3 linked regions of the Homo sapiens genome follow. The protein of the gene in region 1 purifies or fractionates together with the protein of each later gene. This does not show direct contact. Each region holds a gene or a part of one and is shown in the gene's direction. Other genes may lie near its edges.

Region 1 (7,994 bases):
CAGACGAGAGAATTAAAAAAAAAAAAAAAAAAAAAAAAATCCAGCGAAAGGGGTTTCCCCTTATAAAGCCATCAGATCTCGTGAGACTTATTCACTACCACGAGAACAGTATGGGGGAAACTGTCCCCATGATTCAGTTATCTCTCATCGGGTCCCTCCCACAACACATGGGAATTATGGGAGCTACAATTCAAGATGAGATTTGAGTGGGGCACAGCCAAACCGTATCACCATCCCACTGAGAGCCACCTCCATCACTCAATAAAATGCCCACATTCACCATCTTTCAAGCCCATGTAACCTGATTCCTCCTCGATGCTAGACAAGAATTCAGGATGCACTGGGTGTGGGAACCCAAAAAGGCTGTCACACTGACTCTACTGAGCTATTTAACACTTAAGCCATTCCCAGACGGCAGGGCTAAAAGAGCACTGTAACGCCCCTAGACACTGCCATGGGGCTGGAGGCCCAAATCACTCACCCCAACTCCTGCACCTGCTCACCTGCATGCTCCCTCTCCCGTAAGGGGTTTGAGTACACGGCAGCCGAGCAAACGAGCCACACCCTGGTTCCAAGTCCCACAAAGGGGTCCAGGGAATTCTCCTGTCTTATAACCATAATGCCAAATTTTGACAAGGACTATACAAAAAAGGAAAATTACAGACCAATCTCACTCATGAACATAGATTAAAAAAAAAAAAATCCTAAACAAAAACAACAGCAAATCAAATCCAGGAATATATATAAAAGACAATATATCATAACCAAGCTTCCAAGAATGTGAGCTTGGTTCAAACACTGAAAAATACATACTCATTTCAATCATCTCAATTAAGGCAAAAAATGCATTTGATCAAATTCCGTAACAATTCAATTAAAATGCTTATCAAACTAGGAATAGAAGGAAAATTCCTTAATCTAATAAACAGAAATTCAAGTTGGGAAGGACTTCGGGGAATACTCCTTAAAGGAAGCTGAATGCGGGTCCACTTCTCTGCCACATAGAACGTGGATTTACTTGATAGCTGAAGCTCCATCACTTACCTGGCCTATGAGATAACCATAAATATGGAACTAGATATTGAATGTAGAACTACAGAAAGACAGAAAGAACCTGGGGCCCTGAGTCTTAGTGCACTACCACATAAGTACTAAGTTGCACAGCTGTGGACTTCTTTCACATGTGAGAATAAGCGTTTGTGCATTAAAGATACTTTTGTTTATGCAGCTAAACCCCATCTTGACTTAAACACTATTTCTATTCAAAATGGTACTGAAGGCTCTATCCTAGGCAAAAGGTAAGAAAGATAAATAAAATATGTAAGAATTCTTAAGAAACAAAACTATAATTATTCAAATATGAATAGAAAATTCCAAAAAAAACTGATAGAAAATTCTTAAAATGGCATTTCTATATACCAAAACAATCAGTTAAAATCTTTAATTTAAAAAATGATACCATTCATAATAGCAACAAAAACAAGGTATCTAGGAATAAATCTAAGCTAAAAGTCAAAACTTTTATGTAGAAAAGTATGAGACCTTTTGGAAAGATTTTAAGAGGACCAAAATGGCTCAAGGATAGTAAGAGTTGACATTCAGGTGTTACTTTTCCTGAAATACATCCAAGGATACAGTGCAATTTTGATCAAAATTCCAACACAGTTTTTCCTGGAAATTCATAAGCTACATTCTATACAGAAGAGCAAAGAGACAAAAATAACCAAGACATTCCCGAGAACACAGCCCCAGACATCAAAAGTTATGATAAGCTACACTATTAAAGAAAATAGGTAGTGGTTCAGGGATAGAAAAATAGATCCATAGAATAGAATTGACTCCACACATATCTGTAAACTTAAGGTGACAAGTGAAGGTGGCAAAAAGGTGATACAGTCAAATCACATTAGGACAACTGAAATTAAAACAAAACAGAGATTGGAGACTTATCTGACAACATACATGAAGAGTGAATTCTAGATGACGGACTATTAAATATGAAAGGCAAAACTCTAAACATTTTAGGAAAAATAGAATACCTTTAAGAGTACGATGTATCAAAGAATTCATAAATGAGATTTTAATGGACTTTTCTCCTACATTAAACTTAAGGGGGAAAATGTTTAACTATATTAAAAGAGGTCTTCCTAATAAAAAAAAAAAAAGGATGGAATGAAGGAAGGAAACGGAAAGATAGGCCAAAAACAGACAACACTTGTACCATTACAATATCTCACTAATAAAAAGCTCTTAAAAGTCAGTAAGAAAAAGAAAAATCAAGGAAAAAAAGATAAACATAAATAACCAATAAAAATCTGAAAAAATGTTCAAACTTTTCAGTAATCAGGGAGTGCAAATTAGGGTCACGACAAAAAAACACTTCATATCCATCAAATTGGGGGAAAAAACTCCAAGAGTTGCCAAGAATATACAATAACTGTAAACTGTCTTATACTCCAGGTAAGAGAGTAAACTGGTACCACCATTTGGGGAAATCATTTTTTTACTAGTGGCAGAGATCCAAGTTACCCCAAGTTACCGGTGGCCTATCCTCACGGGTCAGTAGCAACTTCAGTCCTTGCCTCCTCAGACGAAAAAATTTGACTGAGGGGCATAAAGCAGAAACAGAGACCCAGGCAAGTTCCAGAGCAGGAATGGAAGTTTACTTTAAAAGGCCTTAAAACAGGAAGAAAGGAAGGTGTGCTTGTTAGAGACCCAAGCGGGAATGTGAAGGTTAAAGAGAGTAGGTCAAGTGTCCGATTTAACCGTTGATCCTTTTTTTTTCGTTTGTTTGTTTTTTTTTTTTTTGAGAGGGAGTCTCGCTCTGTGGCCCAGGTTGGAGTGAAGTGGCGCGATCTCGGCTCACTGCAAGCTCCGCCTCTCGGGTTCACGCCATTCTCCTGCCTCAGCCTCCCGAGTAGCTGGGACTACAGGCCCCCGCCATCGCGCCTGGATACTTTTTTGTATATTTAGTAGAGACAGGGTTTCACCATGTTGACCAGGGTGGTCTTGAACTTCTGATCTGAGGTGATCCACCCGCTTCAGCCTCCCAAAGTGCTGGGATTACAGGCGTGAGCCACCGCGCCCGGCCCTGATCCTAGGACTTTTACAAGCTTGTCTATTTCCCATGATTCTTTCCTTAGGATAGGCTGCCGGCAGGCACAGAGCCCTCCTTAGCCTTGGGAAGTGTTTTTAGGGAGTTACATGCACGCCCATCTGAGGCTTCCTTCCTTTTTCCGGTGGAGTGTACCTGGAAGATCATACTTTACCATTTTTGTCTCTTAATATGCATGCCCAGGAAGCTGTTTCTCCCTCGGGTCTACATTCAATTAACATTTTGATAACAGGTGTGGACCATCAGGAAATGGCCTCTCCCTGGCGCTGCAGAATTATCATTTTTAGAGAAGCAAATTCGGTAATTGCCAAACCATCCCCCAACATTTCTAGTGGGTTGGGGGAGAGCCCACTACTGTCCCACTCATGCCTACCTGTAACAGAAAAAAAAATATGATCTACGTACATTCGTCAACATAGATGAATCTCAAAAACAAACAAAAGAAGTCAGAAGATACATACGTTTCTGTTTATATAAAGGTCAAAGACTGGCAATATTAAACAACATACCATTTAGCAACGCCTGCATGTGTGATAAAACCACCTAGAAAAGCTTAGGAAGCTTAACACAAATTTCAAGATAGTGTTTACTTATGGCTGTAGCAAGGAGGGCTTCATTGGGGAAGTGCAAACTGGTAAAATTTACTGGTAACTGGTAAAGTTCCATTTCTTCAGCTGAATGACAGGCCCCATGGATTCATTTCATTTCTCTCAAAACTATGCAAATCGGCTAGCTATACTTTTTTCTGTACATCATGTATTTTATAATATTTTAAGTGACTCAAAAATACACGAAAAAGCTGTTTTAAATTATCTTCCTGCTCATCTCCCTGTTTTAAAAGAAAGCCTTTGCTTAAAAGTGGTCTTTCTAACTGCAGGTAAACAACGACATTAACATCTGGTACTCACAGGAGTGCTCTTTAAAAAAAAAAAAAATCACTATTACAGGGTACGCACCAAGGCTCACACCTGTAATTCCAGTACTTTGGGAGGGAGACGGGGGAGGGAGGGATCGCCTGAGCCCAGGAGTTTGAGATAAGCCTGGTCAACATGGCGAGGCCCCATCTGAACAAAAAAAAACAAACAACAAAAAAAAAATCTTTATTAGCTGGGTGTGGTGGTATGTGCTTATAGTCCCAGCTACTTGGCAGGCTGAGGTGAGAGGATCGCTTAAGCCTACGAGTTAAAGGCTGCAGTGAGCTATGTGCATGCTACTGCACTCCAGTCTGGGTGACAGAGAGAGATCTTGCCTCAAAAAAAAATGCTATTAAAGACATTGATGTGTGTACTCTCCCCTATATAATGCACATCAACTTGCTTTGCAAAACAATGCTAAAGTACAAAAGACTTAAAGCTGTAATATAAAATAGACTTTACTGACTTGCACCAATACAACCACAACTTTTTTATACACCACTGACACACATTCTACATCTGTTTAATGAAATCCTTTAAAGTACCGTTAGTGAGTAAAACTAAGACAAACCTATTAAGTGCTAAGGAAACACTAAGGGAGACTATCATTTAATTATCGTACATGAGATTCCAATCTTAAATTGCCACGTGAAGTCTCAAATCGGATCTTTTTTGCTTAAGGGAATTTGAACGATGACAATTCTGTAGCTTTGGGCCAATTCACAGACTCAGTTTCCACAACGTTATAATACCCAATTAAAACTTCTGTCCAATTTCCACCGTACCGTTTGAAGGTATTTTTATGTGCACTCATTCTAGAATACTCCTGGCAAGGCCGCCGGCTTCGGGTCACAAGATGAGCCAGGGACAGATTGGAGACTACCCCCAAATCTCCCAGGAATCGGTTATCTTCCAGACCTCCAGATCGCCCTCCAGAGTCTCGCAGTGTGGAGGGCAACGACAGAAAGACTGCTGAGGGGGTTTAAACTGTTGAGTCAAACATATGGCCAAAAGTCAGAGTCAACTGGGACCTTGCAAATCATTCCGCCTAACCCTTCGTTTTGCAGATGGGGAAAACACGCCTCAGAAGGGAGAACCCTAGCTCGGGGAACCCTAGCTCGGGGTCTAACAACGATTTAAGCTTGTCTCCCCTAGTACTGGCCAGTGGTTCTTCCCCGTTACCCATCCTTAAGTGCTTCTATTGGCTGCCAACACGGAGGGGTTAGCGGGGTGAAAGAACCGGCGCCTCCGCAGTGTGGCCAGGTTGGGCTAAAAAACGTCTTAGAAGTAATCGGATCAATCTCTCTTCTTACAGGTGGAGAAAGTGGAGAAAGTAGAGTGACGCAGCTAAGGGAGTAAATCGACCCTCAGCCAACAAGTGGCAAAAGCCTGAAGAAAGTGATCAAGATCACTGATGACCCCGCTGCCCATCTCCAAGGGGGCGGGTATCACAACCCCGACGCCACACCACGTATCATTCCGCAAAACTCCCGCGCCTCCCACGCAGAACTGGCAAGAGGGAAGGCGAGACAGCAGTGAACAGCTGGTACGCAGCACCCACAGCACCGCGGCAGCAGCTAGTGCCGACTCCCGCCTAGCTCTTTTGACTCTGTTCGCGGGAAGAATGGGGAAACAGTAAGGTTGCGGCGCCTCCCGCGAGACGAGGTACCTGAGGCTGGCCCCGCAGTCCCCCGCCGCACCAGCACCGGAGCTTCACACCCCACTTCCGGGGTCAAGTCACCGCCGGGAATCCTGTGATCGCAGAAAGGTAGTCTCAGGTTCCGCCCCTATCCAAGTCCCGCCTCCACTGCCTCTCGCCCTGTATCTGTCAACTTCCGGGACGCCGCGCGTCACTAAGCAGCCAATCTCCACTTCCGGACTCATCCAGCCCCTTCTCCACCCCTTTCAGAGACAGCGCGATTGCGATTTAGGTTTCCGCGCATTTAATTGGCGAAGCTGGAGCGCTAGTCTTCGCTGATTGGTGCCGAGAAATCTGCCCCATAGACACCCGCGGGGCGCACAGTTTCAGTCGTCCGTGGGTTTCCCGCCAGCCGCAGTCTTGGACCATAATCATGGTGGACATGATGGACTTGCCCAGGTCGCGCATCAACGCCGGCATGCTAGCTCAATTCATCGACAAGCCTGTCTGCTTCGTAGGGAGGCTGGAAAAGGTGTGCGGGTTCGCAATCATGGGCTCCCAAGTCCGTAGCTGGAGGGAGGGACCCCGCCTGGATAACGGGGGATGAAAAAGGACGGAAAGCCTCCGATCACTGCGCCCCCGACTCCTTTATTTTGCACAAGGAACTTTTTGGAAATTCTTTAGCCGTTGTAGCCCCATTTTGGCGCTCTTTTATGGCACGGAAACAAAGTGTTTTCAAATGCTGAGTTCTAAATTCCAGTGCCCGTCGCCTCCGTTCTAGCCGTGCTTACGTAAGGGAAATTATAAACACCACTCCCACATCTACCTTCAGATTTCTTAGTTTACTCAGACGTGACGGACGCAGACAAAACTAATCTGCTGGTTTCCTTCTCTTCTGAAATTACTTATTTTTGCAAACCTCGTTTCCTCGTTGTGATCGCTTCTCTGTAAAACATGCCTTGGTTGTCCGCTTTGGGTCCCGTAGTAACGAGTTATTTAACCCCAGTATTAAAGTGAAGTTCCCTCATTCTACAGGCGAGAAACAGGCCCAAAGTCTTGGAATCAGTGACCTGAAAAGCTGAGGAAAAGAAAACTATTATATAAAGACTTATTTAGTAGCTCATTTCATCCACACATCCTCTTCCTTAAATGAGTGTTGCTCTGACTTCCCAAGTAGGGAAACTGAGTAGGAGTGGTAGGTGGTTGACTAAAATGCTCAGAAACTCGGCAAATGGCAAAGCTGGCATTCAAACGCAATCTGACAGCGCTCTTTACAGCTGCTTCCCAGGAGTAGGACCCAGATATTCTAGCAACCAGTTCTCCTTTTACTTCATCATGCCTGTTTTTTAAAACATACCCTCCGTGGGATATGTACTGTCTAAATCATGAGTGCCAGCAGATTTCACTTTTAGGGTGGGCATCCTTTAATTTGTTATCAGAATAGGGTTGCCATATTTAGCAAATACAGAACCTACTTAACACTACAAAAAAAATCCTTGTTTATCTGAAATTCAGAAATTAACTGTGTGTTCCATGAACAGATTTGATAACATAAGATTATAATTTGATCCAATAAGTTGAATAAACTGAATGAATAAACTGTTCAAGAAACAGTTGATTTGTGCTCAACTAAGGATCAATGTACTCATCTTTAGTCAAACTTTGTTGTTGTTTTAGTGAGATTTTAATTATATGTTTCGTTTTTAGATTCATCCCACCGGAAAAATGTTTATTCTTTCAGATGGAGAAGGAAAAAATGGAACCATCGAGTTGATGGAACCCGTATGTTTAAGTGTTAATAAGTCTCTTATATATTATAGTTAATTCTTCATCTTGATTTGGTTTGTTGCCGATGTTTCTAATTTTTGCAATGGATTTAAAAAGGATGAGCTGGTAAAACGTCCCTGGCTGTAAAATTTAATTCTTGTACTATTCTCTCATTATATTTCCTTTTACATTTTTAACCAATGATTTTTTGGGCGTCATGATTTTTGAACATATCCCATAAATGTTGGATAACAATTCTCATTCCTTATGAAAGACCATAAAATCACATAAGAAAAATTTACGTTGCTTTTTTCTTCCTCAAGAGGTTTTTTGTTTCGTTTTTGTTTTTTTGTTTTGAGACAGGGTCTCACTCTGTTACCCCGGGTGGAATGCAGTGGCACCATCATGGCGCACTGCAGCCTTAGCCTCCCAAGATCAAGTTGCTCCCATGTCAGCCTCCCCAGTAGCTGGGACTACAGGCATGCTTAACCATGCCTGGCTAATTTTTGTTTTGTTTTGTTTTGTTTTGTTTTGTTTTGTTTTTTGTAAAGATGGCATC
Region 2 (7,394 bases), on another chromosome or scaffold:
AAAAAAAAAAAACCAAAAAACTAGCCAGGCCTAGTGGCTTGCGTCTGTAGCCCCAGCTATTTGGGAGGCTGAAATAGGAGGATCACCTGAGCCTGGGAAGTGGACGCTGCAGTGAGCCATGATCACACTACTGCACTCCGCACTCCACTCTGGGTGACTGAATAAGACCCTGTCTCCAAAAAAAAAAAAAAAAAAAAGAAAAATTTTTCTGTATTTTGGATACAAGTTCTTTTTTGGATGTGTATTTTGCAGATATTTTCTCTTAGTCTGTGGCTTGTCTTTTTATTCTTTTAACAGTGTCTTTCATGAAGTAGAAGTTTTTAATTTTAATGAAGTGCAACTTGACAATTTCTTCTTTCATGGATCATGCTTTTGGTGTGTCTAAAAACTCTTTGCCAACTTCTAGAAGTTTGATAGTTTTGTATTTTACATTTAGATCTGTGATACATTTGAATTACTCTATGTAAAAGGTATGAAGTCAGTGTCTACATTCTTTTTTAATGCATTTCTCTGATTATGAAATCAATCTTTTTTTGTATAGTTATTTTAATTTCCTCTATTATGAACTGCATATTACATTTTTTGTACACTTGAGTTACATGCATTTTTCAACTGTATATTGTCAAATATTTTTTGAGTTTTTTTCAGTTGCTTTTAAAATATATTTTCAATACTAATCCTTCAGCTGTATTCCATAAGATGTTGCTTATCCTTGAATTTTGTGCAGTATTTGAATTTTATTTTTGTTTTCTATGTATTGTCTAAAAAAGTATTCTTTACTCTGAATTCAAAAAGCTATTCTCATATATTCTAAAAACTTTAATGTTTTATATTTTCACTTTTTAAAATTTTTTCTGGATTGTGTGTGTGTGTGTGTGTGTGTGTGTCTGTACTTGTGTACATGTGTATATTTTGTGAACTTGGGATCTAATTTTTAGTTTTTCCCTGTACAGAAACCAGATATATCTCTGATTTATAATATGGTTTCTGTTTTTTATTACATTTTCATATCTGTGTGGGCCAGTTTCTGGTCTCTTACTTCTGCTGTATTTATCTATGTGACTTTTGTTCCCTTATTACACCACCACTTTAATAGCTATTTTGTAAAATGTCATCAACATCAGATAGGACAGTTTTTCCCTCGTTCTTCATTTTCATCATCAACTTAGACCTTCTCATTCTTTCTTTTCTTTGAGTTTTAAAGCCATATTATCAAGTTTCATAAAAACTCTGTTGTCATTTTGTTTTAAATTAGATCAAAGTACATCTCCCCATTAATTCAGGTCATCTTTTGTATCCTTTAATACAATTTTGTGTGTGTGTGTTTTTTTTTTTTTTGATGGACTTTTGCCCTGTCACCCAGGCTGGAGTGTAATGGCACGATCTCTGCTCACTGCAACCTCTGCCTCCCAGGTTCAAGCAATTCTCCTGTCTCAGCCTCCCAAGTAGCTGGGATTACCACTGCCCACCACCAGGCCCAGTTAATTTTTGTACTTTTAGTAGAGACAGGGTTTCGCCATGTTGGCCAGGCTGGTCTGGAACTCCTAACCTCAGATGATCCACCTACCTCAGCCCCCCAAAATGCTGGGATTACAGGCGTAAGCCACCGCGCCCAGGCTTGTGTTGTTTTTTCATTGCACATTTGTGTTAGCTTTATTTCTGTATAGTTTATATTTTCTGTTGCTTTTGTAAATTAGATTTTTTTCCCTCTCATCTAAGAAACTTTTGCAGTTTTATAGAAACACTATCAATTTTTATAGATAGTTGAGGTATCTAGTCTTATTCAACTATTACTAATATTATTTTATTTTATATTTTTTGAGACAAGGTCTTACTATGTCACCCAGGCTGGAGTTCAGTGGCATGATCATGGCTCACTGCAGCCTTGATCTCCTGGGCTCAAGTGGTTCTCCTGCCTCAGCCTCCCAAGGGGCTGGGACTACAGGCCTGCACCACCACGCCCAGCTAATTTTTTTTTTTTAATATTTAATAGAAATGAGGTCCTGCTATGTTACTCAGGCTGGTCTTGAACTCCTGTGCTCAAGCAGTCTTCCTTCCTCAGCCTCCCAAAGCATTAGGATTGCAGGTGGGAGCCACTGCGTCTGGCCTGTTAACGAATTTTAATAATTCTACATTAATTCCCTTGAGTATTCTAAGTAGATCATTTTATTATCTGCTAATAATGAAAATTTATGGACTGCTGCAAGGAAAAAAAACAAGTGTATTGAAAAATGCCTGACAATCCTTTGCTGACACAACATTTCCTGTAAGTTTCTCAGGACCAGTAAACTGGTGAATTTTGGTAGTCTTAGGAGTCTGAATGTTTAGTTGCGGTTAAAAAAGACCTGTTGTCATTAGAAGTACAGAAGTGAAATAGGTAAATAGCTAGATTTAACCAATGTTCAGTTATAGTAAATGGAACAGGTGGATTTGCAGGTGTTTTTAAGGGAATGATTATCATATAGAGAAGATATGTGGAATCTGGGCTGGAAAGTAAAGAAAAACATGAGGGGGGTAATGAATGACAGAAAAATAGGGTTTGTATATTCTATATAGGAGGTTTTAGTTAGGTCAAACACTTTTTAGAGTGGTAGAATTAAAAGAAGTGAGGTAGAAGGATAGGTGTTTGGGAGTGATATTTGAAATTGAGATTTCAGAGATTCACTTAGTGATAAATTAAGGGTATAATTTTTGTCATTCGGTTGGTAAATTAGGGTAAAGGAAAAGATTGTTGGAAATGAAGGCATAGAACTATTTCTATGGATATTGAAGTTGCTAAGAATGATCATAGTATAGGGGCTAGGAAAAGAAGGTTTTGATCCAGGTGTTAACATTTTTAGTAAATGAAAGGAGTGTCTAAGACTTCAGAAAATATTAGGCACTAAGAAAGGTAGATGATGCCATATTATGGTGACATGAGTTATTACAAAAATGGGGCTTAAAACAGGTTTGACAGTGGTGAAAGGGAGCAAAGGGGATGCCTCTTCTACTTCTAGGGCCCTGAATTGTGAAAGAAAAGTTGCCTGTGTGTTAGGGGGCTGTAGAGAAAATGGGGTGTCATGAACCAACCAGATTTTAGTTAAGTCAAGAAGGTGAAGTGAATATCCAGAGAAAGATTTTGTGTATAGAGAAGCTGACTGATGACCGATGGTATTTCTGAGGGCATTGTGGTAGGTATTGGGAGAATAGGAGGGGTAATAGCTTGGGTCAGATTAGCAGATGTCCTTCAGGTATTTAAAGATTGTTAAGACACTGCCACTGAACAATTAGATTGGATTCATTGACACAACAGTGTTGGTGGTTACATCAGCCCTAGATGACTCCATTGGATGATGATGGCTAACCTCTGAGGCTTAGTTTAGATTCTGGTGGTAAAAAATGTATACTGGGATATGAGGTGTAGTGTGGTCTAATGTTGAGGAAGGTTGGTTATCACTTAAAACTAGAAGGGGTGGAGGGATTGGCTTGCAGTAGTGTGATGATCAAAGCGATAAGCAAAGGCCTCCTTGGCATTGGCTCTGGCTCTAAGGCATTTTATGGTAGAGAACTGGCTGAAAGACTTCTCTTACATCCGCCAGCATTACTTATGGAAGCTGTATACCATTATTTCTTACTGCTGCTTTTGGAAATATTTTCTGAGTACTTAATACTTCATTTTCTCTTGAGCTTTGCCATTGAATTTTTTATTCCAATGATTACATCTTAATATTTTCATTTTCTTCATCTTTCTATTTTTTCTTAGTAACTTTCTGTCCTGGTTTCAAAGATTCAGTTCCCTCCTTTATTTCAGTGAGCATTTTGAACATACTTATTTTACAGTTTATTATGGATTACTGTAGCTCCATTTCTTCACAGGTAACTTTTTCAGTTTGTAGATTTCTTAGCTGTTTTTCTTGGCATTGCAGCCCCCAGTGAGTTTAGCAATTCAAATTTTAGTGTTCATCTGTTATGGGAGTTTTATATGATCCCTTCCCTGTGAAGCAGTTTCATGGTTCCTTCACACTGGCTGTTCACAGTCTCTGCTTTCAGACCAGGCCTTACATATACAGATTGCTCTATGCTTTCACTCTGTGTATATGCACAATTCTGGGTCCCTCTTCTATGTCCCTTATCTGCTAGGTCTTGGTCTTATAGAGGAACAATTTCTGTTTTTGGCAAGCTAGACCTGTCTGCCTGCAGTGCTATGTGATGGATGCAGCTCTTTAATCTCCTGCTCCTGTGTAGACAGTATTACCCCAATTCCCAGCTTTATGCTGGATGTTTAAGTTCAGCACCTTACCACTCTGTTGGGTGCTGAGAATTTAGTCCTAAAAACCCATATCCAGACTGGGCCCTACTTACCACTTTGGTTTTCCTTTCTGCTTCTCTTGTTTTGACTACAGATCTGAATATTTATTATTAATATTTCCTTTTTTTTTGGAGTGGTATGAGAGGTTTGTGCTATGCTCAGCCTTCTATCTCGACCCTAGAAGTAGAAAAATAGCTTTTAAATCCACTACAAAGAGCTTTTACTTATATAAGGTTAATAGGTGGTAGACAGTCTTTGACATGGGGTGAAAAAATCTAAAAGTTATAAAAATAAAACCAACTTGGCTGGGCATGGTGGCTCATGCCTGTAATCCCAGCACTTTGGGATGCTGAGGCAGAAGGATCACTTGAGTCCAGGAGTTTGAGACCAGCCTGGACGACATAGTGAGATCTCATCTCTAAAAAAAAAAAAATTAGCTGGGCGTGGTGGCGCATGCCTTTAGCCCCATCTACTTGGGAGGCTGAGATGGGAGGATTGCTGCAGTGAGCCGTGATGGTGCCACTGCACGCCAGCCTGGGCAACAGAGTGAGACCCTGTCTCAAAAAAAAAAAAAGCAAAGAAAAAAATTAAAATAAAAAAATAAAAACAACTTAATTATATCTCTGATACAGACTGTGATCAACCACTCTATGATTGTCCTATGTGTGGGCTCATATGTACAAATTACCATATTCTTCAGGAACATGTTGACTTGCATTTGGAAGAAAACAGCTTTCAGCAAGGTATGTTTATATGTTTGAAGATAAAAATATCATTTAATTTCTACTTTCTAGGACACATATCTAATTTTTAGATTTGTGATATGGAAAAAATATTTTAAAATACATCTTTTCCTTTAAAAGTGTTTTATTTACAAGTTGAGGCCATTTCTTTAGCAGCTAGAAGTATCTGAATATTGTATTTGGTCAGCGAAAATTGTTGAACTAGAAAACTGCCATATGGCACATAAAATTTTACAAATGAATGTGAACTATATAACCAAAACATCTTTCAGTGCATCTTGAGCTGCTTGAATAGCTTCTAAATGACTTACTGGTTTTATTGTGATTCTATAAAAGTTTTCCTTTCTCCCCTATGTTTTTTAATAGTGGCATTGTTTAAATAATCATTATGGTGGCTTAGAAGTGGAAAAATCCTATATGAATGTTAGAAGCCCACTGAACGAAAATAAAAAGTAGATCCCAAGAGAAACCAATTGTGTTTTACCCTATTTCAGTTTTTTAAGGTACGTAGATAGCTTCTGTTAAGGCAGAGGTCTTTAGTGTCCAGTATCAATGATCCTAGTACCAGTATCGGTGTTCATGGACAATGTTACTGCTCACTCACCCTAAGCCAAATATGAGATTATTGGGGCAAAGATGGAAAAGTTCCCTGCTCTGGTGGTTTCTGAATGTCTGCTAATTCTTACTCTTATTTATGATAGGCTTTGTATGAGCACGTATATTACAGTGTAAACCTATAGTGGGTAATAAGAAAAAGATATGGTCTAAGTAAATCACTGTAGATAACCTCAGGGGACACTAAACATTGAGTGTGACTTGTATATCCCCAAGAATGGAAGGGTGACCAAATAGGAAGATGTAGCAGCAGCTGAGAACTTTGAAAGGAAAGGAAGAATAGTCAGTGATATAATTAAACCATCAGGTCATGGGGTTAAGGAGACAAGATAGTGGCCAGAAGCCACTGACAAATGGATCTGGGGGACACCGAGTAGAGAAGATGCAGGATGAGATGTTGCAAAGTTTTACCATTTTTGGGGGCCAAACTGTAATTAAATTATTATCTAACACCTGCACTTTGTAAATGTGTATTTTTATGCTCTTTATTTTTTTTTTTTTCTCCCCTAGTATTTCTTTGAAAAATCAATCTGCCTTAGTTATGTTAAGGAGTATCAATGCAGGATGTTACTTAACGTTTTAAAATTCTGGTTTCCTCAGTAAATAATAATAACTACTTCATAAGATTGTTACAAAGATCAAATGATATAATTAATGAAAAGTGCTTGTCACAGCTTTAAACACTTAGTGAGGCTGGGCATGGTAGCTCACGCCTGTAATCTCAGCACTTTGGGAGGCCGAGGCTGGTGGATCACCTGAGGTTAGGAGTTTGAGACCAGCCTGACCAACATGGCGAAACTCCATCTCTACTAAAAATACAAAAATTAGCTGGGCATGGTGGCAGGCACCTGTAATCCCAGCTACTCAGGAGGCTGCAGCAGGAGAATCACTTGAACCTGGCAGGCAGAGGTTGCAGTGAGCTGAGATCGCACCATTGTACTCCAGCCTGGGCAATAAGAGCGAAACTCCGTCTCAAAAAACAAAAAACAGTGACTGTTAGTTGTCATTTAGATGGAGGTTATTCCTTACCAAAGCAGTTCTAAGTTTTGCTAAATTTGTACTCAGTTCCATATCATCACAGTCATGAATAAATGGCAAATAACAGCATTTACTCTATTTTAAAAACATATATTAAATAATAAATAATCTTTGATTGCAACAGTTATTTTATTCTGAACATTAACAATACCTAACAGGCATGGATAGAGTCCAGTGTTCTGGTGATCTACAATTGGCTCACCAGCTTCAGCAAGAAGAAGACAGAAAGAGGAGATCTGAAGAATCAAGACAAGAAATAGAAGAATTTCAGAAGCTGCAGGTACAAAGATTAATAACAATTATAATATTTTGATTTGGTAAAGTTATTTTTCAAATATGCTTTCCAGTGTATTATTTTTGTCCTTGTTATTATTCAAAAAAAATTTATACATGTTTGTAACAGACACCATTTATAAATATTCATTCTAGTGAGGCACAGGGGTAATCACTTCACATACAATATCTCAAAATCTTTGCAACATATTCATGAAGAAGTTACTTTAGGCCCTCCCACGCCCCCTTTTTTTTCAGATGAAGAAATGGAGACAGAGAATGGTTAAGTAATTTGCTCAGTGTCAGGCAGCTAATTAGTGATAAAGCTTGCATTCAAACCTGTGTAAGTTGATGGGACAAATTAGGAAACCAAGACTCAGAATTTAAGTGTTTGTATAGATGCTTGGAAGCGAAATTTATACTTAGAATTAATGTCT
Region 3 (7,256 bases), on another chromosome or scaffold:
TCCCTTCTGATGGGCCTTTTGCTTTTATAGAGAGATGCTCCCTGCAGTCGGGCTGGCAATGGCGACAGATAAATTCCATGTCTTACCTCACACCAACCGAATCAGAACCTCGAGGGCTTGTGACTCAGGAATCCATGATTTTAAAAACTTTCCGGCCAGGCACGGTGGCTCACACCTGTAATCCCAGCACTTTGGGAGGCTGAGGTGGGCAGACCACCTAAGGTCAGGAGTTCCAGACCAGCCTGGCCAACATGGTGAAACCCTGTCTCTACTAAAAATAGAAAAGTTAGCCGGGTGTGGTGGCAGGCGCCTGTAATCCCAGCTACTCAGGACAGTGAGGCAAGAGAATTGCTTGAACCCGGGAGGCGGAGATTGCAGTGAGCCAAGATCGCGCCATTGCACTCCAGCCTGGGGTACAAGAGCGAGACTTCGTTGCAAAAAAATAAAAATAAAAATAAAAACTTTCCCTAATAATGCTGACACAGCTCGGGGACAGATGGGGATTGGCAACCACCTAGGAACTGCAACCCCCTCACATGACAGACAAGGAAATAGAAACCAGAGAGGGGGATGACTTGCCAAAAGTAACACAGTGGTAGGAACTGGGCCCTGTCTAGAAGCCAGGCTTCCTGATTCTGGCTCCACCACACCAATATACCTCATCCCTATCTGGCCAAGGCCCTTCCCCACCACCTGGAACCAGTTACCTCTGCAAGCCAATAAGCTTCCACTTCTGAAAATCCATAATGTGCAAAGGGGAGGAGGCCCAATGTTTCACGGGCTTAGCGTAGCAGCCATAGCTGGGGACAAAGATAGCCAGTGCAGTCACGAGTTTCCTGACTATGGCCTCATCTTCCCCCAGGACCACAAGTGTCCTCCCACTGAGCAGGGAGTAGATGGCTGGGTGGGCAAAGGGGTACTGGCGGATGAATTTTAAGGCGTTCTGGCCAGCCCTCTTTTTATGCCTATCGGAAGACAGGCCAGCAGGATAAGCAGAGGGGATCCTGTCTGAGCTGGTGGACGCTACACTGCTCACGTAGCTGGTGGTGTCTGAGTAGTTGTCCAGGCTGGTCTTACTGATGTCCCGGCTAGCCAGCAGGTGGCTCGGGTCCAGCTCATAAGCGGGAAACCCTTCACAACTGTTGTCTCGGGAAGAAGGGTTGGCATTTTCCACTGAAAAGTCTACACGGAACCCCTGGTCCTTCTGCCTGTGGCGCTGTGGGGGGCTGCTCACCACCCCATCCTCGTCAGAGTGTGTGTGGGCTGGAGTGGAGGGCAGCACCAACTGACCATCGCTCTCCTTCCCAATACAGCAGGAGGAGTCTATTTGTGATGGGGTGTTTTCTATGCTGCCTTCCTCTGTCTCACCCAGTTCTGGAGGACTGATGCTTGCCTGGAAGCGGATGGCTCCTTCATTGCCATCTGGATATGATTCTTCTTCATTAATGGCACTTGGGTAGCTGGCCTTAAAGTCATCAGGGATGAGGGCCTCAGAGGGGCAGGTACTGAGGACTTCAATACTGTCCTCGCTGATGGTCCTGTGGCTGACTGCTTTGCTCCGGACCACCTGGGGGCTCAATGGTACTGTGAGGCTTGCCTGGCTGTCAGATTTAGAAAGCACGGAGGTGGATTTCTCCGTGCCCAAAACTTCAATACTTTCACCACTGCTGATACTCCCTTTCATATCCATATCCAGGTAGTCCAAGTTTTCCTGGGGGTCGAAACTGCTCAACTCAGTCACTTCCACTTCCTTGTACTCCTCATCTCCCAGTTCCTGCTCCATCTTGATCAACACAGACTCCACACTGGACTTGTAAGAACCAACACTAATTAACACTTTAGGAATTGGGCATTCTTCTAGAGAACTGGAAGGCGGCCTGTCTTGACTGGGCTTAGAGGGTATGCTTTCTTGTTTCTCCACCATCCTGTCATCGACCTCCACAAAGTCTTCAAAGAGAAAGTTTGTTATATGCTGTTGTTTTAGAAGTGCTCTATCAATCTGACTGGTCAGGAGGTAACACAGGTCTCCTCTGAACATGTGTTCAATGTGGCTGAGCTGAGCCAGGGTCTGGGTGAAATATTCAGTGTCACAGAGCTCCTCCAAGGTCTTCAACTTCTTGTCAAAACACTTGGTGGACTTTGCTTTGATAAGTTTTGGGGTGTAGGCTGGTCTGCAGGTGTAAAGGTCTGTGTCGGCAGACTCATCAGGGTTAGAGGTAGTGGATGCCTGGCTGGCCTGATCCTGGATGTGCTCCATCTCACCAGGACACAAATCATGCCCCTTCAACTTCCGATGAGGGTATGAGCGGATCTGCTTCAGCAGGTCTTGATGTTCAATGATGGACTTCTCCACACTGGCCAGTTCATTGGCTTTCTCAATTGCCTGAGATGAGTAAAAGCCTTTGTCGTTGGCTTTCTTCTGGATCTCCGTTTCTGTGTGTAGCACTGTCCTGGTGTAATCCAAGTCTTTCAGCTTTTTTTCAAGTTCCCCAGCAAATGCCTTCCTGTTGCCAGTCTTCAAGCACTCAGAAGCTCTGGAAAATTCGGCTGAAAGCTCCTGGAACTGCTGCATGATTTTATGCTGGTCTGCAGAGATATAAGCCATGCAAAACGGCCTCACGAAGCCACGGGCCTCCAGGTCGTATAGGGTAAGGTGGTGCACGTATGCAAAGGCGCCCTCCTTAGAATCTCCCAGCACCACCTTGGAGTCCTCCACGAAGTTCAGCTTGGGGTAGGCAGATCCAGGAGGATGGCCCACGAAGGAAGCCTGGTAATCCACAGACATGATACGCAGGGAGAAGTAATTGAGATCAAAAGTGCCAAAAACTTTGGTGTCATTGGGGATGGTCAGTAAGGGTTGGGGTCCCACCTGCTCAGAGAACTCGGAAATAAGAATGAAGTCCCTCGAAAACTTGGCCCCGGACAGTTTTGACCAGGGGTTAGCACCCTGACTGGCGAAGGGGAAGAGCGGCACCGAGTACTCCTCAGGCAGGGCCGGCTCATTGTAAGGCTCTTCTTCATACTCTTCCTCTTTGGTGAAGGCCACTACGTCAGGGGCGCTGATCATATTTCCAGATATATGAAGAAAACATTGAGAGGAAGTGGGAAAGAATGCGGTGTTAATCGACGCGCAGAAGGCAGGCCTCCGGAGAAGGAAGTGAAGCCCTTACGGCCTTCTTTGCGACTCCCCGAACCCGGGGTCCTAGGCTGCTTCTCACACACCCGAGGAGAAGAACTCTAGCAGCCCCCTCACAGTTGTAGCTCCTCCGGAGCTCTCTGAGGCCTCATGAACGCCAAGGCCGCAGGCCCAACTGCCCTTCTCTTCTTCGTCCGGCGAGCGCGGCCAGCACAAGAAACCTGCTGCGAAATCACCTGCACTCTCCGGAACCCACTGCGACAGCAAAAGCCCCCGCTCTGAACAAGGCTTAACGCGAGGCTACGGGACGCCGCAGGGGTCAGCCAAGCGCTGCTGCCCCTCACTGCCCGAGGGCAGAAACCGTCGCGGCTCCTAGGACGCCACAACCCGGATCCTGCTACCGCGGCGCCGCCATCTTGACATCACATGACTCCTGGTGTCCGCGCCGCGTGACCCGGAAGCGTCCTCGTAGACTTCCGAGCAGGAGATTAAAAAGTCATGAGAAAGAGGCCTTGGATGGGAGTGTCTGGCGGCTCCCCGCAAGAAGGAGTCCGATTAACCAACCACTGCCGGGAAGGAGGGGAAAGAGGGGCGGAGTGAGACGGGGGCGGCGGGAAGGTGGCAGAGGGGAACGTGCTTGGACGAGGGGCGCGGGACAGTCTGGGAGTTGTAGTTCCAGGTCGCTGTGGGGCGCGCGCCTGGCGGAAGTAGCTGGAGAAGGCGGGCGGAAGTTCCACGCCAAGATACTGGATTCGGTGCTGAGGCGGCGGCTGCGGCACGGGAAAGGCTCAGTGACTGAAGCTCCAAAGGCCAGCAGGCTGGTGGGGACGTGACCGAAGCGAGGCTCTGGTTCCCTTTCGGTGGGCGCCATTTGAGCCTCATCTCTGGCTTCCCCAGGATGCGCCGGCAGCCGGGGAGCGGCTCCGGGCGCGAGGTCTGAGGATGATCTTTCCTGTCGCCCGCTACGCGCTCCGGTGGCTGCGACGGCCCGAAGACCGTGCCTTTTCCCGCGCCGCCATGGAGATGGCCCTCCGAGGCGTGCGGAAAGTCCTCTGTGTGGCCGAAAAAAACGACGCGGCCAAGGGGATCGCCGACCTGCTGTCAAACGGTCGCATGAGGCGGGTAAGAAAGCGCGTTCCGATCAGCTGCGTGCCTTAAGGGAGGCCCACCGAGCGGGACAGCGTGGTGGGCGCCAAGAATCGAGATGAAGGCGATTATCTCCCATTTCTCAGGCCTCACTGCCCCTCGTCTGGATTATTGCAGTGGCCTCCTGTCTGCTCTCGGACTGGAGTGCATTTTAAAACGTAGTTGATACATCTCACTCATTTGCGTGGAAACCTTTTGTTTTGCTTGCGCTTAGCAGGTTCCCAAACTTGTCTGATTCTCGGAATCGCCTCGGGCGCTGGCTGCCCTTCGGGTCTTGTGTGAGGCTGGGGAAGTGTGTATTTTACTGTTTTTCCCTAGAGATTCAGAAATTCATTTGGGAACTACTGACCAGATTCCCTTAACTTGGCATTCAAGCCCTGCCCGATCGTTCCCCAGCCAACCTAGCCCTCCCCATCCTGTGCCACAGCCACTGCATTCTACAGCCCTTGTGACTTTCCAGCCTCACAGTGCACACTTACAGCAACACGGTAAGGTTTGGGGATTAGATTTGAAGTCAGCCCTGTTCCTACCCGAATGAACTGATTCTGAGAGAGGTAAGTGGTAAGAATGTGTTCTACACACACGGGAGGCACAAACGCAAGGGAGGATAAGAAAAAGTTTCATAAAGGAGGTGCCACGGGAGACATAAAGAGCTGTCCAGGAAAATATCTCAGATAACAAAAGTAGATCCTGAAATGGTTTTCTGGAGAACTTTTCTAAGAGCATGGGTGGAAGTTCCCTGCTCATTTTTCTTTAGTTCCCAGGGTCCTAAGACCTGTTTCCAGATCAAGGATAGTGGGAGTGGAGCCAGGGTTGTGTGAATGCTGGCTGACAGCTTTACCTGTTTCCAGTGCTAGAAGTCCTGGTGACCAGCCCCAAGGTTTGTCTACTTCTAGACAATGAAGTAGACATTGAAAAATGGTTCTCCTACGCCTAACTTCTTATCCTTCAAGGCTCTGCTGAATTCATTCTCTCTCTCTCCCTTTTTTTTTTTTTTTTTTAAGCAATCCAGAGGTCTTGTATTTATCTATTTTTACCCTATCATACCATGAATCCATAGGGAATAGGTTCCAGCGGCTCAGGCTCTTTTCCATTGGTTCTCACAAAGTGTACTTCCCTCAATGGAACAGGCTGGCACTTCAGGTGAACCCTTTCTCTTTGACTTGCTTCTTTTTTGATCATTTTCCTTCACACATTTCAGGAAAGATCTTGGTTCTTAGAGTGCTTAATATGCTCAATAGAAACATTAATTCTTTGGGCAAGAATCTAGCCCTTGTTCGCAGCAGTGCCAACAGCATGCTGGGTAACATAGACTTTTCCAGTTCTGCCATGTAACATTTGTGGGTCATTCCCTTTTGAACAGTATGCATTCTCACGAAGTCCTCAATATCACCTTCATTGTAGATTCTGGTGTCTGTGGCCAGAGAAACTCCATATTTTTGTTTTGTTTTGTTTGTTTGTTTTGAGATGGAGCTTTGCTCTTGTTGCCCAGCCTGGAGTGCAATGGTGTGATCTCAGCTCACTGCAACCTCCGCCTCCCGGGTTCAAGCGATTCTCCTGCCTCAGCCTCCCTAGTAGCTGGGATTACAGGTGCCTGTCACCATGCCCAGCTAATTTTTTGTATTTTTAGTAGTTTCACTGTGTTGGCCAGGATGGTCTTGAACTCCTGACTTCAGGTGAGCCACCCGCCTTAGCCTCCCAAAGTGTTAGGGTTACAGGCGTGAGCCACCGTGCCCAGCTCGAACTCCATGTTTTCTATAAGGCCAGGAGAACATACATCAGATGCCTCGTCCTCTTTTCCTTTGTGTTCGTCATTTTGGCAAATTACTCCAAGATGGCAGTTCCAGCCAAAAGGAAAGACTTTTCTTGGAAAGAGAATTTTTATTTTTATGTACAGAAAACACAACAGTGTGTACTTAACCCAGTTTAGTGGCAAATTCTTTAGCCTTTGCCTTTTCTAGGTTGGTAATGCAAGCTACAGATTTTGGACCCAGGGCATTGCCTCCCCAGTGACAGCAGATCTCATATGTCGTTGTAATTTGTCCCACCAGCTTAGCCAGAGCTCCTTTGTCTACCAGAAAGTTAACCTTTGTGAAGGTGACAGTGGTGCAGGTCTTCCTGTGGAATTTGACACCACAGTCTTGACGGTGCAGTAGAGAATCCCCATCTTAGGACACAGCACAGGCAGGAAGACAACCAGCTCAATGGGATCCACCACCAGCTGACCCTTCATGCTCTCTACCAAGTTGGTGACGGTGTCAACCCCTGCTCGAAGTGTAGGTGGTCTCTTAGTAGCGACATCCCCTTTGCTGGAAGCTTTCTTCTCAGCCTGGGCCAACGGTTTCGATCTCATCCCTTGCTCTGTCTCTTGTCTGTACTGTGGGCCAGCTTAAGCAATTGAGTAGCTTAAGTTTGGTAGTCTGAGGCCTGGGTGAACTGGTCAATCCCAGGTGGCACATCAGCCACTTATAGAGTACAGCGGCTCTGCCGCAGCAGCCATTTATAGCGGGACTATTTGACAAAGTGGGTGAGGCCCTTAGGCTAGATATCCAATGCCAAAATTATTAGGGCTTTTCTCAAATGGGATTTACCACCTTTTTGGCCTACTGCTGCTCCATGACAACAGGGGCCAGGGCCACTTCTTCCCCTTGGCCATCTTTCCTTTTGGCATCTGGGGCGGCTAGAGGAGAGAGGCTGCTGAAATGTCTCATCTTCAAGGAATCCTTCCCTCACCACCTGTTCCCCCACACTAGGTCAGAGACCCTTACTGACATGCTGTCATAGCACTCTATTCTACTTGAAAGGCATCTACTAGTTACAGTTAAATAATGGGATGTGCGATCATTTATTTGATTTTTGTCACTGCCTCTCCTTGGACTCTAAACTCCAAAGGACAGTGATTATATTTTGTTAATTGCTATGTCCTAACGCCTAATATGGTGTCTGGAATGCAGGAAACTTTCAATAAATATTA

What was found. The genes of interacting proteins can lie anywhere in the genome.
Region 2: the proteins of RPA3 (region 1) and ZUP1 purify together in Homo sapiens (affinity purification with western blotting; 3 studies listed by BioGRID, with this or other methods). This does not show direct contact.
Region 3: the proteins of RPA3 (region 1) and TOP3A purify together in Homo sapiens (affinity purification with mass spectrometry; 3 studies listed by BioGRID and IntAct, with this or other methods). This does not show direct contact.

The regions. Positions count from the first base shown.
Region 1 is NC_000007.14:7,638,526-7,646,519, reverse strand, and holds part of RPA3 (replication protein A 14 kDa subunit), read left to right. Parts: intron 1-5,344; 5' UTR 5,345-6,101; coding exon 6,102-6,200; intron 6,201-7,375; coding exon 7,376-7,450; intron 7,451-7,994. UniProt on the Homo sapiens protein: As part of the heterotrimeric replication protein A complex (RPA/RP-A), binds and stabilizes single-stranded DNA intermediates that form during DNA replication or upon DNA stress.
Region 2 is NC_000006.12:116,658,373-116,665,766, reverse strand, and holds part of ZUP1 (zinc finger-containing ubiquitin peptidase 1), read left to right. Parts: intron 1-4,920; coding exon 4,921-5,031; intron 5,032-5,397; exon of another isoform or gene 5,398-5,534; intron 5,535-6,842; coding exon 6,843-6,964; intron 6,965-7,394. UniProt on the Homo sapiens protein: Deubiquitinase with endodeubiquitinase activity that specifically interacts with and cleaves 'Lys-63'-linked long polyubiquitin chains. Shows only weak activity against 'Lys-11' and 'Lys-48'-linked chains.
Region 3 is NC_000017.11:18,311,601-18,318,856, reverse strand, and holds the start of TOP3A (DNA topoisomerase 3-alpha), read left to right. Parts: upstream 1-3,862; 5' UTR 3,863-4,078; coding exon 4,079-4,258; intron 4,259-7,256. Other genes in the region: guanine nucleotide exchange protein SMCR8, read right to left, coding at 708-3,067. UniProt on the Homo sapiens protein: Releases the supercoiling and torsional tension of DNA introduced during the DNA replication and transcription by transiently cleaving and rejoining one strand of the DNA duplex.